Homo sapiens: one gene and its partners. The protein of the gene in region 2 purifies or fractionates together with the protein of the main gene of each other region. This does not show direct contact. Each region holds a gene or a part of one and is shown on either strand. Other genes may lie near its edges.

Region 1 (2,756 bases), about 88 Mb from region 2:
CCTCCCAAAGTGCTGGGATTACAGGAGTGAGCCACCGCGCCCAGCCCAAATTTTTTTTATTGTGATAAAATATGCACAGTTTAAAATTTACCATTGTAACCATTTTTTTCTTTTCTTTTTTTTTTTTTTTTTTTGAGATGGAGTTTTACTCTTGTCACCCAGGCTGGAGTGCAGTGACGTGATCTCGGCTCACTGCAAGCTCCGCCTCCCGGGTTCACGCCATTCTCCTGACTCAGCCTCCTGAGTAGCTGGGAGTACAGGCGCCCGCCACCATACCCGGCTAATTTTTATATTTTTGTAGAGATGGGGTTTCACTGTCTTGGCCAGGCTGGTCTCAAACTCCTGACCTCAAGTGATCTGCCTGCCTCAGCCTCCCAAAGTGCTGGGATGGGATTACAGGTGTGAGCCGCCGCACCTGGCCTGTAACCATTTTATTGTATCCAGTTCAGAGGCACGAGGTACATTCATGATGATCAAACATCACCCGTCTACTTACATCTTCAAGCCAAATGGGAACCCTATATCTGTTTGCATCTATTTTTAATTTATACAGATAGTATCGTGATAAAGACTTTGATGCTTTTTAAAAAACTTGGCACTGCACACACACATTTGTGAACCGTCCGAGAGCACGTTGCAACATCACGGTTTTACCTCTTAATATTTTTTTTTTTTTGAGATGGAGTCTCGCTCTTCACCCAGGCTGGAGTGCAGTGGCGCGATCTTGGTTCACTGCAAGCTCCGCCTCCCGGGTTCACGCCATTCTCCTGCCTCAGCCTCCCAAATAGCTGGGACTACAGGCGCCCGCCACCACGCCCGGCTAATTTTTTGTATTTTTAGTAGAGACGGGGTTTCACTGTGTTAGCCAGGATGGTCTCGATCTCCTGACCTCGTGATCCGCCCACCTCGGCCTCCCAAAGTGCTGGGATTACAGGCGTGAGCCACCGCGCCCGGCCTACCTCTTACTATTTCAGTGTATATTTCCTAAGATCAAAGATATTCTCTTGTATAACCATAGCACAAATACAGATTTCAGGAAATTGAATTTAGATACAATCCTTTTATCTAATACATAGACTATATTCCAATTTCATTCATTGGCACAATCATAACTTTCAAAGCAGTATTGTTCCTGGCCCAGGAGCCAGTCCGGAGTCGAGGATTGCGTTCAGCTGTTATGTTCCTGTGTGGCTGGGAAGCGGGTCTCAGACGGTTTCATCTGTAAATGTCAGTATCAGCGTCTAATAAAGATAAGCCTCTTTTTAAGCAGCCACGACACCTGATCACACCTAACCACCACTCCTGGCATTGCACATCCGTCTGGTGTTTGTGTTTCCTGTTGTCTTACCCGTGACATGGTTTTCTGTGGTTAGAATTGGGTTGAAACGAGGACTCAGACATGATCAGCTGAGCCCTCGGTCCCTCTCCTGGACACGAAGCTCCCGCCCTAGTGGGGCCCCACGGTGGGTTTTGGTGCCTGGTGCTCGCACAGTTGGCAGAGGGGGGTGGGGGCCTCATCTGGGGTTGGGAGGGGGTGGGGGGCTTTCTGAGGCTGGGCTGTTTATCTGGAGGCCGAGAGCCAGGCTGGGCACAGCCGTGGGTGCTTGTAGGCCTGGACCAGAGACTGCCTTGCAAACAGGTAATTCTTCCCACAGGTGTGGGGCTCAGAGAGGGGGAGATGGGGAGGGCACAAAAAGAGAGCCTCTTGGAGAAGGCGACTCTGAGTGGGGTCCTGGGGCCCCTGTTCGTTTCCAGGACACATCTGCCCTCAGTGGGACGGGCTCAGTCAAGGCCAGCCCAGGGGAGGCTGCTGTGGGCTCCCGCTCTGCTGCTCAGGCGAGCCCTGCTTCTCTTTATGTTTCCCGTTGTCCACAGTTTGGGCAAGATTATTGAGTGGGGTTTTTTTTAAACAATGGAAGTTGATTTTATTTGAAGTTCCATTCTGCCTTTTTTTTTTTTTTTTTTTTTTTTTTTTTGGAGACAGTCTCACTCTATCGCCAGGCTGAAGTGCAATGGCGCGATCTCAGCTCACTGCACCCTCTGCCTCCCAAGTTCAAGCGATTCTCATGCCTCAGCCTCCCGAATAGCTGGGATTACAGGCGCCCACCACCACGCCCAGCTAGTTTTTGTATTTTTAGTAGAGATGGGGTTTCACCATTTTGGCCAGGCTGGTCTCGAACTCCTGACCTCAGGTGATCCGCCCGCCTCGGCCTCCCAAAGTGCTGAGATTACAGGCGTGAACCACCGCGTCCGGCCAACACTCAGTCTTGTGGCAGCACAGCGGGCACCCTGGAGAGACTGGAGCAGGGTGTGTGGGCTGCAGGTCTGGCTCCTGGGATCGCAGATTTCTCCTCTGGCCTCAGACCTCCCATCCAGGCACTGTGAGCTCATCAGTAAAATGTAGACTTCGTAGCACCCCCTCCACAGCCCTCCGTGAGACTCGTGGAGATTTCCTGAGCTGGGCACAGGAGGCCCAGAGTGCCCGCCACGGAGGGGGCTCCTGACCCACTGTTGTTCGTGATGTTTGTGATGTAGGCATCACACTCTGAAGGCGGTTCTAGGAAGCTCTGACGCACGGAGGCACTCTGGGCTGTCTGGGGGCCCGTGGGTTGCAGGGCGCATGTGGGCCATGGCAGGTGTGGTGTTGCTGATGCCTTTCCTGTGCCCCCAGCAATACTACATCCTGCTGATCCTGACGGACGGCGTGGTGACCGACATGGCCGACACACGGGAGGCCATTGTGCGTGCCTCACGCC
Region 2 (3,762 bases):
CAGACAAGAAAGCAAATCGCCCCAAGTAACCTTTTCTAATATTTGGTGCCCATTATTCTAGACTTGGAGTGCTTTTTTGGTTGCTGTTGTGTAAGGAGTCTTGCTCTGTCACCCAGGCTGGAGTGCAGTGGTGCAATCCTGGCTTACTGCAAGCTCTGCCTCCCAGGCAGTCAATTCCGGCACCCAGCCTCTCGAGTAGCTGGGATTATGGGTGCACACCACCACAATGGCTAATTTTTTTGTACTTTAGTAGAGACGGGGTTTCACCATGTTGCTCAGGCTGGTCACGAGCTCCTGAACTCAGATAATCCTCCCGCCTCAGCCTCTCAAAGTGCTAGGGTTACAGGCATGGGCCACTGCGCCCGGCCTAAACTTGGAATGCTTTTTAAAAAACAATCACAAACTTCAGAGCAGAAACTGAAGGTGGCCTCTGGTTCACCCCTAAAATTTCAGATGCAGAAGTGGCTTCACTGCTTGACCTCGGCTCACTGAGTACAGCTCAAGCGAAATGAAATAGAAAGTGGGACCAGAGACACCTGGTAGAATACGATGACAGCCTGTGTGAGGCCACCTGACTCAGCTCAGAGAAATTCAGATGAAAACAGAAGGTGATGACTGAAGGGGAAGACAGAGAAGCAACAAGAAAAATGGGAGGAGAAAGGCAAGAGACGGAAAGGTAAGATGATGTAAACAAAACTAGGTGGGCTTCTCTGGGTGCAGGACACCCAGCGAAAAGCAGAAGGCCAAAGCCAGGTCCATCTGTGACTGTTGCTGAGCCCACAGAGGCTGAGTGTGGTCTGCACAATGAGGAGAACCATCGAGAAGCCTGCAGGGAAGTGGGGTGCAGAAGCAGGATCGCCAACAGTGCACTCTTTGAAAGCAAGAACCGTGTGGAACTTCCCCACACCCAAGCCTGGTCCCAGGCCTCACACACAGCAAGTGCTCAGTGACAGCACAGGGTCCCACGGAGCCTAGATAAAGGGCCTCCCCAAGCTCCCTCTGCCCCTCGGCAGCCCCAGACAGCACACCCCAGGCTGCTGGGACCCAGGTCCTCCCAAATGGAACCCACCTTCCTGCTTAGCCCGTGTCAGCGCCACAGTTCTCCAGAGGCCACACTGCCACCTGCTTTCCCCTTCCCATCCGCACCGCCTGTTTCCCAAGCCAGCTCTCTGCCGCCCAAGTAAGACAATTTCAACAGCCTCTTCTCAGGTCTCCCAAACCCCTAGCACCTGCCACAGCCTGCTGTGCAGACGGTGCAGTGAGGGCACAGCCATGTGGCCCCAGCGCACCCTCCCAGCTGCTGGCCCCTCTACCTAGCTCCAGACAGGCCCTACCACCTATTCTTTGCAACACGTCCTCTTCCCCATCACATGTCCTGGGTTGGTCTGGAATGCCACCACCTGCACCCCTTCATATCACCTTAAGAAGAAAAAGTATCCATATCTTTCAACTGGGGAAGCTGAGGCACGGGCTGAGTAGGTCACCCACAAAGCCACACAGCTGCTCAGTGCCCAGCAGGCCTGGAAGTAACAGAACCTGTATTTAAATGGCACCTTAAAATGCATTCAAATGCCCTGCTTCTTCCTGTCCTCGCAATGGGTAGTTATCTCCATTTTAGAAATGGGGAAACTTTCAGAAATTATTAATAGCATTATGTCATGTAAAAAAAAAAATGAAATGGGGGAAACTGAGGCTTTAGAAGCCCCGAAGTCACCAGGCAGCAAGAACCACGCAACCTTCTCACTCCAAACCCAGGCGTTTCCCATGCCGTGCCGTCAGAACAGCTCTGAAAGCCAAGCAGCGCACACTGTCCTGTCACAGAGCTGGAGGATCAGGGTCGTGGTGGGGGAAACCAACCTCAAAGTCCCTCCCTCAGCCTGGGAAAGGTGAGAAGTTAAATGACTCACCGAAAGGCACGCGGCTAATAGACAGCCAGAGCTGGGCCTTTGGAAGATGTCTGTCTGGACGTGAGAGGTCAGACGCAGAAGCCCAGTGACACCCTGTCATCATCTCTAACATCAATTCACTGTCCTGGAGCACTCTTTCTGTGGTTTGGTGAACTTCCTTCAGAGGGTTAGGAATAGTAAAATCAAGAGTGACAGAACACCAACTGCGAGGGAGTCAGCGTCTGGTCTGGAGGTGAGAGGACTGCAGTGAACACACCCGTCTCCCCCATGCTTCACTCATTTCTCAGCTAGAAAGGCACTGGCGACACCCGCTCGTGGAAGGGCATCTCCAGACTTGACCGTGCCCCAACCCCAGCACCGGGAAACGTCCTCATGGCCTACGTCTGCAGCATAAGACAGCAGGGACCCTTCCCAGGAGGCCAAGGATGGCGCAGAAACTGCAGAGGTCCAACGCGTCCACCTCCAAGTCTCCTGAGGCATTCCGTGCCTCTCCTAACACAAGACATCGCATCAGATGCTGGTGCCAGCAGCTCTGGTCTTGGAGCCAGAGTTGTGGGTGAGGGCTTGGTGGATACCATCTCCAAGGTCACATGGGGGGACCCTTCAAGCAAGCCAAGCCGCAGGCAAGGTGTCATCTCGGATGAGTTCTGAGCCTCCCCTACCCAGCTCCATCGTCATGCACACGCAGTGGTGTCGCTCCATCCTATACGACAGGCAGTCGGTGAGCAAACCGGGACCCCTCCTGACCTCGCATTGTCCCATCAATCTAAAGATCTGGTCCACACTCCAGGCGTGCCTGCAAGAGCCCTGGTCAGGGTCGCCAGACTCTGAGATGTCCTCTTCCAGGTTCTGAAGCTGACCTAAAACCTAATGGTCTCCACGACACCCTCTGGGAGTCACTCATACTGTCCCCTTCTCTGCCGGGACTCCCACCCTCAGTGCCTGCAAGGCTCAGCGTCCTCCTGCATGCTCTGACCAGCGCTGTCTCTCTTGAAGATTCTCCCTTTCCCCTCCTACAAATATTTGAGAGAAATACAACTAGAACTCCACTGTTTGTATAAAAGCGTATGCCCTCTTCATGAAATACCAGCAGATTTTCTAATTGTATCCTGTAGGTATTGCAAGATATCCCAACTAAACTACAAACTCCTGGAAATGTCTCCTTTTTTCAGTGTTTCTAACGTGGTTCTTTAGTGTTAAAAACGCTGTTGTGCCGGGCGCAGTGGCTCACGCCTGAAATCCTAGCACTTTGGGAGGCCGAGGCAGGCGGATCACCTGAGCTCAGGAGTTCGAGACCAGCCTGGGCCATACGGTAAAACCCCATCTCTACTAAAATAAAAAAAATTAGTCGGGTGTAGCAGCATGCGCCTGTAGTCCCAGCTCCTCAGGAGGCTGAGACAGGAGAATTGCTTGAACCTGTGAGGCGGAGATTGCAGTGAGTTGAGATCGCAGCACTGCACTCAAGCCCAGGCGACAGAATGAGACTCCGTCTCAAAAACAAAACAAAAACAAAAAACAAAACCCCGCTGTTGTTACTTATGTGACAAAGAGCTTCTACACACCACTTTATACAACGATGTTAATTTTCACATTTCTGACTTTGCAATCATGAATCATCTCCCTGTTATATCCTTACATAAGCCACAATAAGATACAAAAATGAAAATCGAAAAGTCTACCTCATTAGACAACTTCACAACAACAGACACCACAGAAACTAGTTTTAATACCAAAAGTATACAGGTATTTGAAAAGCAGCTCAGCCTTCAAACCAATGTTCAAATTTTGCCTTACCTACTTTATCTTTTTTGGTTTTGTTTTGTTTTTGAAACAGGGTCTTGTTGTGTCACCCAGG
Region 3 (3,762 bases), on a different chromosome or scaffold from region 2:
GAAAATAGGTCTCCTTCCCATCCCAGGCCCCCAGGGGTAACTATAACTGATGAACCTCAAAGACAAAAGCTATGATTTCTCCCCCACAAAATATTTTTGTAACAGACCCCAAGTCAAGGCCTAAGGGTTTGACATTTCAAGCAAAATTCTTAAACCTAAAAACAGTGGAATATGATATAAAGCAAACCGTTAACTGGATTACACTATCTTATTTCAAAATCCCATGCAATTAAATACCTAAAGAATCAAGCCATTTATGCCATCTAAAAATACAACTGAAACCCTTCAAATACTATCTAATTCTAACTATGAATTCACTGGTTAGAAAAACCACAATTCATTATATTTGGTATTGTTGTTCCACACCCTAAGTTAACGCCAAACTAAATATCGAATAATTCAACTTCACAAACACTTCTTCCCTTCAATAAAGGAAACCGTAAAAATACAAAGTCCTGGCTGGGCGCGGGGGCTCACGCCTGTAATCCCAACACTGTGGGAGGCTGAGGTGGGCGGATCACAAGGTCAGGAGTTGGAGACCAGCCTGGCCAGCATGGTGAAACCCCATCTCTATTAAAAAATAAAAAAATTAGCCGAGCACCGTGGCGCGCACCTGTGGTCCTAGCCTAGCTACCCGGGGGGCTGAGGCAGAATTGCTTGAACCTGGCAGGCGGAGGTTGCGGTGAGCCGAGATCATGCCACTGCACTCCACCCTGGGTGACAGCGAGACTCTGTCTCAAAACAAAACAAAATAAAACAAAAAACAAAGTCCTACAAAAATAGAATTTAAAATGACAGAGTATGAGACACAGTAACATTTCTTTAAAAATGAGTACTGCCGGGCGTGGTGGCTCACGCCTGTAATTCCAGCACTTTGGGAGGCCGAGGCAGGCGGATCATGAGGTCAGGAGATCGAGACCATCCTGGCTAACATGGTGAAACCCTGTCTCTACTAAAAATACAAAAATTAGCCGGGTGTGGTGGCATGCGCCTACAGTCTCAGTTACTCGCGAAGCTGAGGGAGGAGAATTGCTTGAACCCAGGAGACAGAGACTGCAGCGAGCCAAGATCACGCCACTGTATTCCAGCCTAGGTGACAGAGCGAGACACCTTCTCAAAAACAAACAAAACAAAACAAAAAAACCGGGGAGTTTTACTTTTGTACAGAATATCTTTTTAGTGTTTTTAATGTTTTACAAGCGGCCAAAAATGGTTACTTGTAACTAACAAGCAAGCCGTTACTTAGGAGAGAAATGATGACTCCAAAAAAAGTCTAAACAAAAACTCACTAAAATACTTCCATAAATTAGTATTTCGTTTTAAAAGAAATGTGATTTCTCAATGATATAAAGGTTCTATATAAAGTATGAAGACATAACACCAAATATAAAACAGGAAAGAAAAACCATTAAAATGTTTCCTGATAAATGACTGTTTCCACTGATACCTATAAAAAGGTGGTTCAAGTTTTTTAAGAGGCTACAAATATTTTAAATAGTTGTAAGCTAAAAATCATCAACTACTACATGTCACTAGAAACAAGGAATTTATTCTAATGGATAATCAATCATCAACCAGACACATCAAAACTAAAAGAAAAATCTATTCATCTTCTGCTAAAAATTAAATCTTTAAAACAGTATTAAGTGCATACCCATTAAATCCAGTGACAATTTTCAGTATTCTTTCCTTCATTTCATCAAAGGGAATATATTCGACATTAGGGTTGGGAGGACCTCTTGGCTCAGGAGCTGAAGTTCTGAAATCATCCATCACTTTCTCCAGTTTGAAAATAAAATAGCCTTTAAATTGGGACCACTGAATCCTATAAGCAAAAAATTAAAAAATATATAATACCATGTAGCTTCACAATTCTTGAACACAAAACACAAATATAAAATATACTATGACACTAATACTAACAAAATTAAGATGTGAATAATTAGTAATGAGAATGCCGTCATTGAAGAGCACACATCATGCCTCATTTATCACAAGCTCCATCCTGATGCTATCCAACTCCCAACCCAAACAAAACCCAGATCTCTCATTTAGATCTTTTAAATGAACTACCTCTGCCTGAAAGTCTATGGTGTGTTAGGTCCTATTCTTAGTATGTTTAAAATAATATTTTGACTCTTTCACTCATAACAAACCTAACCAGGTGGGCATTAGTTACACTATCCTATTAAGTCAGAATGAATCCATACCTTAATCATCCAAGTTACAATGTTTGCATGGACTAGTAAAATTTGTCTATTATCTACTAAATAACAAAATAAACTTTACTTTCTCCTTTTTTTTCCCCTTTCAGTTAATATCTTCAGGCTCTTTTGTCACTTAAGAGACAAAAGGCATGTACCTATGATTAAGGCACATAATCACAGGTTCTATCCAACCAGTACTTGCACAATAAAAATACATAATTTGCTTAGGTACTTTTCACATCTATTCATTTATCAAATTAACATAAACACCTTTTTATCCCTCTTTCCTCACATTTCACCAGTAATATAAAAGGAAATTTTGTGAGGATACCTGCCTGAATAGTGTAAATTCCAGGAGACACGGGAGTCAGGAATGCTAACCATTTCCTCAGGCAGACAGTACTACCATTAGTGACAGCAGATCAATCTCTTTACACAGGTTGACTACTTAAACAAATTTACACAAATTAACGGGAGCCCATCTGTAATCACCTTCCATCCCATGCAGCAACCCTATAAACTAGGGTAGCAGTTTTCAAATTGTGGTCCAAGAGGTCAAAGCTATTGTCAAAAGAATAAGGGCTGACTAGTTCACTGTTAATGTGTGCACTGATGGTATAAAAGCAAGGTGGATAAAACTGATAATCCATGTAGCAAGAGTCAGGACAGCAGCACCAAACTGTATTACTAGCTGTAGCAGAAGCCAGAATTTTCACAAACTCGTAATTTTAAAAATCTGTTCCACTTAAAGTGTAAAAGATATAAAAATTACTAATTTCATTAAATCCCAACCCTTGAATACATCTTTTACATATTCTGTGTAACAAAATGAGAAACAGGTATTAAAAAAATTATGCTGCATATCAAAGAGGTATGAGATTCTCAAAGAACAATACCTTTATTTAGACCGCTGCCAGCTGAACTAGCTATTTTTCATAGAACAGCATTTTAACCTGAAAGGACTGCCACACAAATAAAGCTTATTTAGATTAGCAGACTGGGTGTGATGGCTCACACCTGTAAACCCAGCAGGCGGATCACCTGAGGTCAGGAGTTCGAGATCAGCCTGGCCAACATGGTGAAACCCTGTCTTTACTAAAAATACAAAAATTAGCCAGGCGGGGTGGTGCATGCCTGTAATCCCAGCTACACAGGAGGCTGAGGCAAGGAGAATCACTTGAACTGAGGAGGTGGAGGTTGTAGTGAGCTGAGGATTGCATCACTGCACGCCAGCCCGGGCGATGAGCAAGACTCCATTTCCAAAAAAAAAAAAAAAATTAGGAGAATGTGGTAGACATTTTCTCAAAAATAAATAAAGTGAACCTGTCATTTCAAGATAAATAACTGACAGTATTTGTTACCAATGATAAAAATTTGAACTTCTAAGCAAAAAACTAAAAGTCTGGACAATTTTTATTCTTCACTGTGAGCTTGAAAGCTTCCTGATATAGTCCCAAAATATTCTGAAGGCAACCAGTGTCGACATAAAAATATTATACGAGGCCAGGTGTGGTGGCTCACGCCTGTAATCCCAGCACTTTGGGAAGCCGAGACA
Region 4 (3,762 bases), on a different chromosome or scaffold from region 2:
TTTTTTTTTTTTTTTTGAGACAGAGCTGTGCTGTCACCCAGGCTGGAGTGCAGAGGTGTGCAATCATAGCTCAATGCAGCCTCAAACTCCTGGGCTCAGGTGATCCTCCTGCCTCAGCCTCCCGAGTAGCTGGGACCCAGGGAGTCCTCGCAGGCGTCCTCTTAGTCCAAGGCCAAGGACATCATTCACAGATGGCTGAGCAGAGACCCAAGGTCCAAGGGGGTCTCAGCCAGGACACCATCTGTCCAGTCCCACTCCCATGCCCAGACATGGCTCCTTCCAACCTAAGAGGGCCCAGGCATCCTGACCTGCCCTGGGAGGCTGTCCCCTGCATGAGTGACCTCTGTCCCACCCCCTAGACTTGGAGATCCCAGCAGCAATGTTACCACAACAGTCGGAGAAGTCTTGGGCACCGGTGGCCTTGGGCTCTGGCATGGGCCGACTCAGGCCCAGGTCGCTGGGGGCAAGGGGGCAGGAAGGTGCTTCCTGCTTGAGCTCTCGGATGGCGTGGTTGGGGAGCGCCGTGCTGTACAGGAAGCTGGCCATGGAGGAGGAGGTGGCGGTTGGGGGCAGGTCCTGGGGTGGCACCTTGGGGGCCTGGCCATGCAGGCCACAGTCCCGTGACCCCTTGGGAATCAGGGAGACACCGTTCAGCTCCACCAGGGCCTTCGAGTCCCGCCCGCCATCCTCAAGTGGCCTGAGTAAAGGAGAGGACACATGGACAGCTTTGTACATCTGTTTCACACATTGCAGCTCTTCCCCCGAAAACCCCGCATCCCTGCCCTCTGCAGAACATAACAGCCCCATGAGGAGGGCAGGACAGGAGCTGCTCTTCCACTTCACAAGTGGGGATGCAGGCTCGGAGGTGGGAATGGTGTGCCCAGGGCCACAGAGCTAGGCCACCGGAGGACCTGGGCCCTGCCCCTCTGCTCCAATCCACTGTTCAGATCCCGCCAGGTGCGGTTGATTGCCTCCTGTCTCCTGCTGCACCCCTCCCCTTCCTGCCTCTGCATTGCCTGGGGCACTTAGCAGAGATGGGTTCAACCTTAAGCCCTCAGGCTGCCTTCTTGGCTCTCCTGACAACTGGTACTGCCTCAGACCAGCCTCAACAACCTAATCTCCCCTGGATCCCTAATTAACCCCAGATTTACAACCTGAGCAAGCACAGGACATGGTTCTCCCGTTTCTGACACCTAAAATGCCATATTTTTTTTTTAAGAGATGGGGTCTTGCTCTGTTGCCCATGCTGGAGTGCAGTGACGCAATCACAGCTCACTGCATCCTCAAACTCCTGGGCTCAAGCAAGCCTCCTGCCTCAGCCTCCTGAACAGCTGAGATGACAGGTGTGCACCACCACACCTGGGTAATTTTTTTTATTTTTATTTTTTGGCAGAGACAGGGTCTTGGTATGTTGCCCAGGCTGGTCTTGAACTCCTGGCCTCAAGTGATCCTCCCACCTCAGCCTCCCAAAGTGCTGAGATTACAGGCATGAGCTACTGTACCCGACCACTTTGGTGCTATTTTGTCCCAAGTCATGTCTCTTCAAGTCTCTCTGCAATGCAACTTCCCTGGGAAGACTTCAAGGCTTAATGACCTGGCTCAGATCCTGTTCTATGACTTCGCTTTCACTTCACCTCCACCATCAGACTGGGAGCTTTCACCACCAGGGTCCCCCACGGGCATCTCAAGTCCCTTCCCCTCTGGCTAAGTGGCCTCCAGCCCCCGGCCCTGACCCGGCCCTGGCCCAGCCCCAGCCCAGCCCCGGGCCGGCTACCTCACTCACCTCTTGAGCTTGAAGCGGATGCGGTGGCTGTGTTCCAGGATGGCCATGAGGGCCTTGGGGTCATACTCGGCTGGCCTTCGGAAGGCCAGGCCTTCGGGCAGCCCCTGCACGGCCAGCAGCCCTGGCTCCCTGAGCAGCCTCTCATAGGGCAGTGGCACCACACTGGCCCTTCCCAGGGCCTCGCCTGTAGGGGAGAGTCCAGGAGAGGGGCCTGGTATGAGAGGGCAGCCAGGCTGGGGTCGGGGCTGCTGTGCCCCAGAGTGGGGGCAGTGCTGAGTGGCTCCCCTTGGTGCGGGGTTCCCATGGACCCCTCATAACTGCAGACTTTGTGCAGAATAACCGCCTGCAGGCTGGGGGTGGGTGGTGTGGACAAGGCCCAATTGTCTGCATCTGGGGGGCTGGGGCTCCCCCACCAAGCAGGTTCCCTGCTGCCCTCCCCGACCAAGCCCCTCTCCACTCTGGGCACCTGGCTGGAGGGGAAATCGGGGACTCAAGGGCCCAGAGGACAGAGCAGAGGCAGACAATCCGGTAGGAGAAAAGAGGGCAGAAGAGACGGAGAAGTGGGGACTTGCATGAGCCAGGCTGCAAGGAAAAAGCTATAAGGGCTGGGCGTGGTGGCTCACGCCTGTCATCCCAGCATTTTGGGAGGCTGAGGAGGGAGGATCACTTGAGGCCAGGAGTTCGAGACCAGCCTGGCCAACATGATGAAACCCCGTCTCTACTAAAAATACAAAAATTAGCTGGGTGTGGTGGTGCATGCCTGTAATCCCAGCTACTTGGGAGGCTGAGGCAGGAGAATCGCTTGAACCCGGGAGGTGGGTTGCAGTGAGCCGCTGCACTCCAGCCTGGGTAACAGAACGAGAATCCATCTCAAAAAAAAAAAAAAAAAAAAAAAGGTGTAGGGAGGAAGGGAGAGAGACCGAGAGGGGGGAGAGAAAGTAAGAAGAAGAGGAAGTGGAGAGGGAGCAAAAATAGGGGATTGAGAAAAAGATGGGAGAGGCTGGGCGTGGTGGCTCACGCCTGTAATCCCAGCACTTTGGGATTACCGAGGCAGGTGGATCACTTGAGGTCAGGAGTTTGAGACCAGCCTGGCCAACATGGTGAAACCCCGTCTCTACTAAAAATATAAAAATTATCCAGGTGTGGTGGCAGGTGCCTGTAATCCCAGCTACTCAGGAGGCTGAGGCAGGAGAATTGCTTGAACCCAGGAGGGGGAGGTTGTAATGAGCCGAGATCATGCCATTGCACTCCAGCCTGGGCAACAGAGTGAAACTTCATCTCAAAACAACAACAACAACAACAACAACAACAACAACAACAAAGACAGGAGAGAGGAGAAAGAGACAGACTGAGAAGACGCAGGAACAAAGATGGGGGCTCGGGGGCACAGAGGAGGGGAGGCAGGCTGGGGACTGAGGACTGGGCACTGGGATATCTGTTGTCACCTCCATGCTACAGCCCCCACCCTGAGCCAGAAAGAGGCCCATCCTCTCATAGCCTCCTTGAATTCTGCCCAAAGTGGACAAGGGGGGCCAGGGCAAGGCGGGCAGGGGCGCGGGGCCCTGCAGCTGGCAAAAGTGTCGACAGAGGCACAGCCAACCATGCGTGGCAAGTCCCCCATCCCAGGGTGGCCAGTGTGACCACCCAGGGCCTCTGGGTACCCCTCCTTCTGACATAAGAACAGCAGAAGTTTCCTCACAGACCTTTGCTCCATAAAACCAAAGGCTACAGTAGGAGAAGGGATAAAGCCAAATCAGAAATGAATGAGGTGGGACCCTGAGCACCAAAGGGACCTGCCCGATGTTTCCCAGGGCGTGTGAAGACCACCACTGGGGCCCTGAGGCCCTCTGCAACCTGACGCTTCCCAAGGGAGGCCAGGTCTCCTCTTCCTGCAGGAAAGACATGGCTGAGCAATCAGCCTTCACTTAGTCATTCAACAAACATTCTCCAAGCACCTGCTGTTGCTGGGCTCTGAACTG

What was found. The genes of interacting proteins can lie anywhere in the genome.
Region 1: the proteins of CRAMP1 (region 2) and CPNE7 purify together in Homo sapiens (affinity purification with mass spectrometry; one large-scale study listed by BioGRID and IntAct). This does not show direct contact.
Region 3: the proteins of CRAMP1 (region 2) and PPP4R2 purify together in Homo sapiens (affinity purification with mass spectrometry; 2 studies listed by BioGRID and IntAct, with this or other methods). This does not show direct contact.
Region 4: the proteins of CRAMP1 (region 2) and GTF2IRD1 purify together in Homo sapiens (affinity purification with mass spectrometry; one large-scale study listed by BioGRID and IntAct). This does not show direct contact.

Annotation. Positions count from the first base shown.
Region 1 is NC_000016.10:89,592,696-89,595,451, forward strand, and holds part of CPNE7 (copine-7), read left to right. Parts: exon of another isoform or gene 1-1,269; intron 1,270-2,671; coding exon 2,672-2,756. UniProt on the Homo sapiens protein: Calcium-dependent phospholipid-binding protein that may play a role in calcium-mediated intracellular processes.
Region 2 is NC_000016.10:1,618,837-1,622,598, reverse strand, and holds part of CRAMP1 (protein cramped-like), read right to left. Parts: intron 1-3,762.
Region 3 is NC_000003.12:73,045,249-73,049,010, reverse strand, and holds part of PPP4R2 (serine/threonine-protein phosphatase 4 regulatory subunit 2), read right to left. Parts: intron 1,826-3,762; coding exon 1,655-1,825; intron 1-1,654. UniProt on the Homo sapiens protein: Regulatory subunit of serine/threonine-protein phosphatase 4 (PP4). May regulate the activity of PPP4C at centrosomal microtubule organizing centers.
Region 4 is NC_000007.14:74,516,344-74,520,105, reverse strand, and holds part of GTF2IRD1 (general transcription factor II-I repeat domain-containing protein 1), read right to left. Parts: intron 1,968-3,762; coding exon 1,784-1,967; intron 698-1,783; coding exon 387-697; intron 1-386. UniProt on the Homo sapiens protein: May be a transcription regulator involved in cell-cycle progression and skeletal muscle differentiation. May repress GTF2I transcriptional functions, by preventing its nuclear residency, or by inhibiting its transcriptional activation.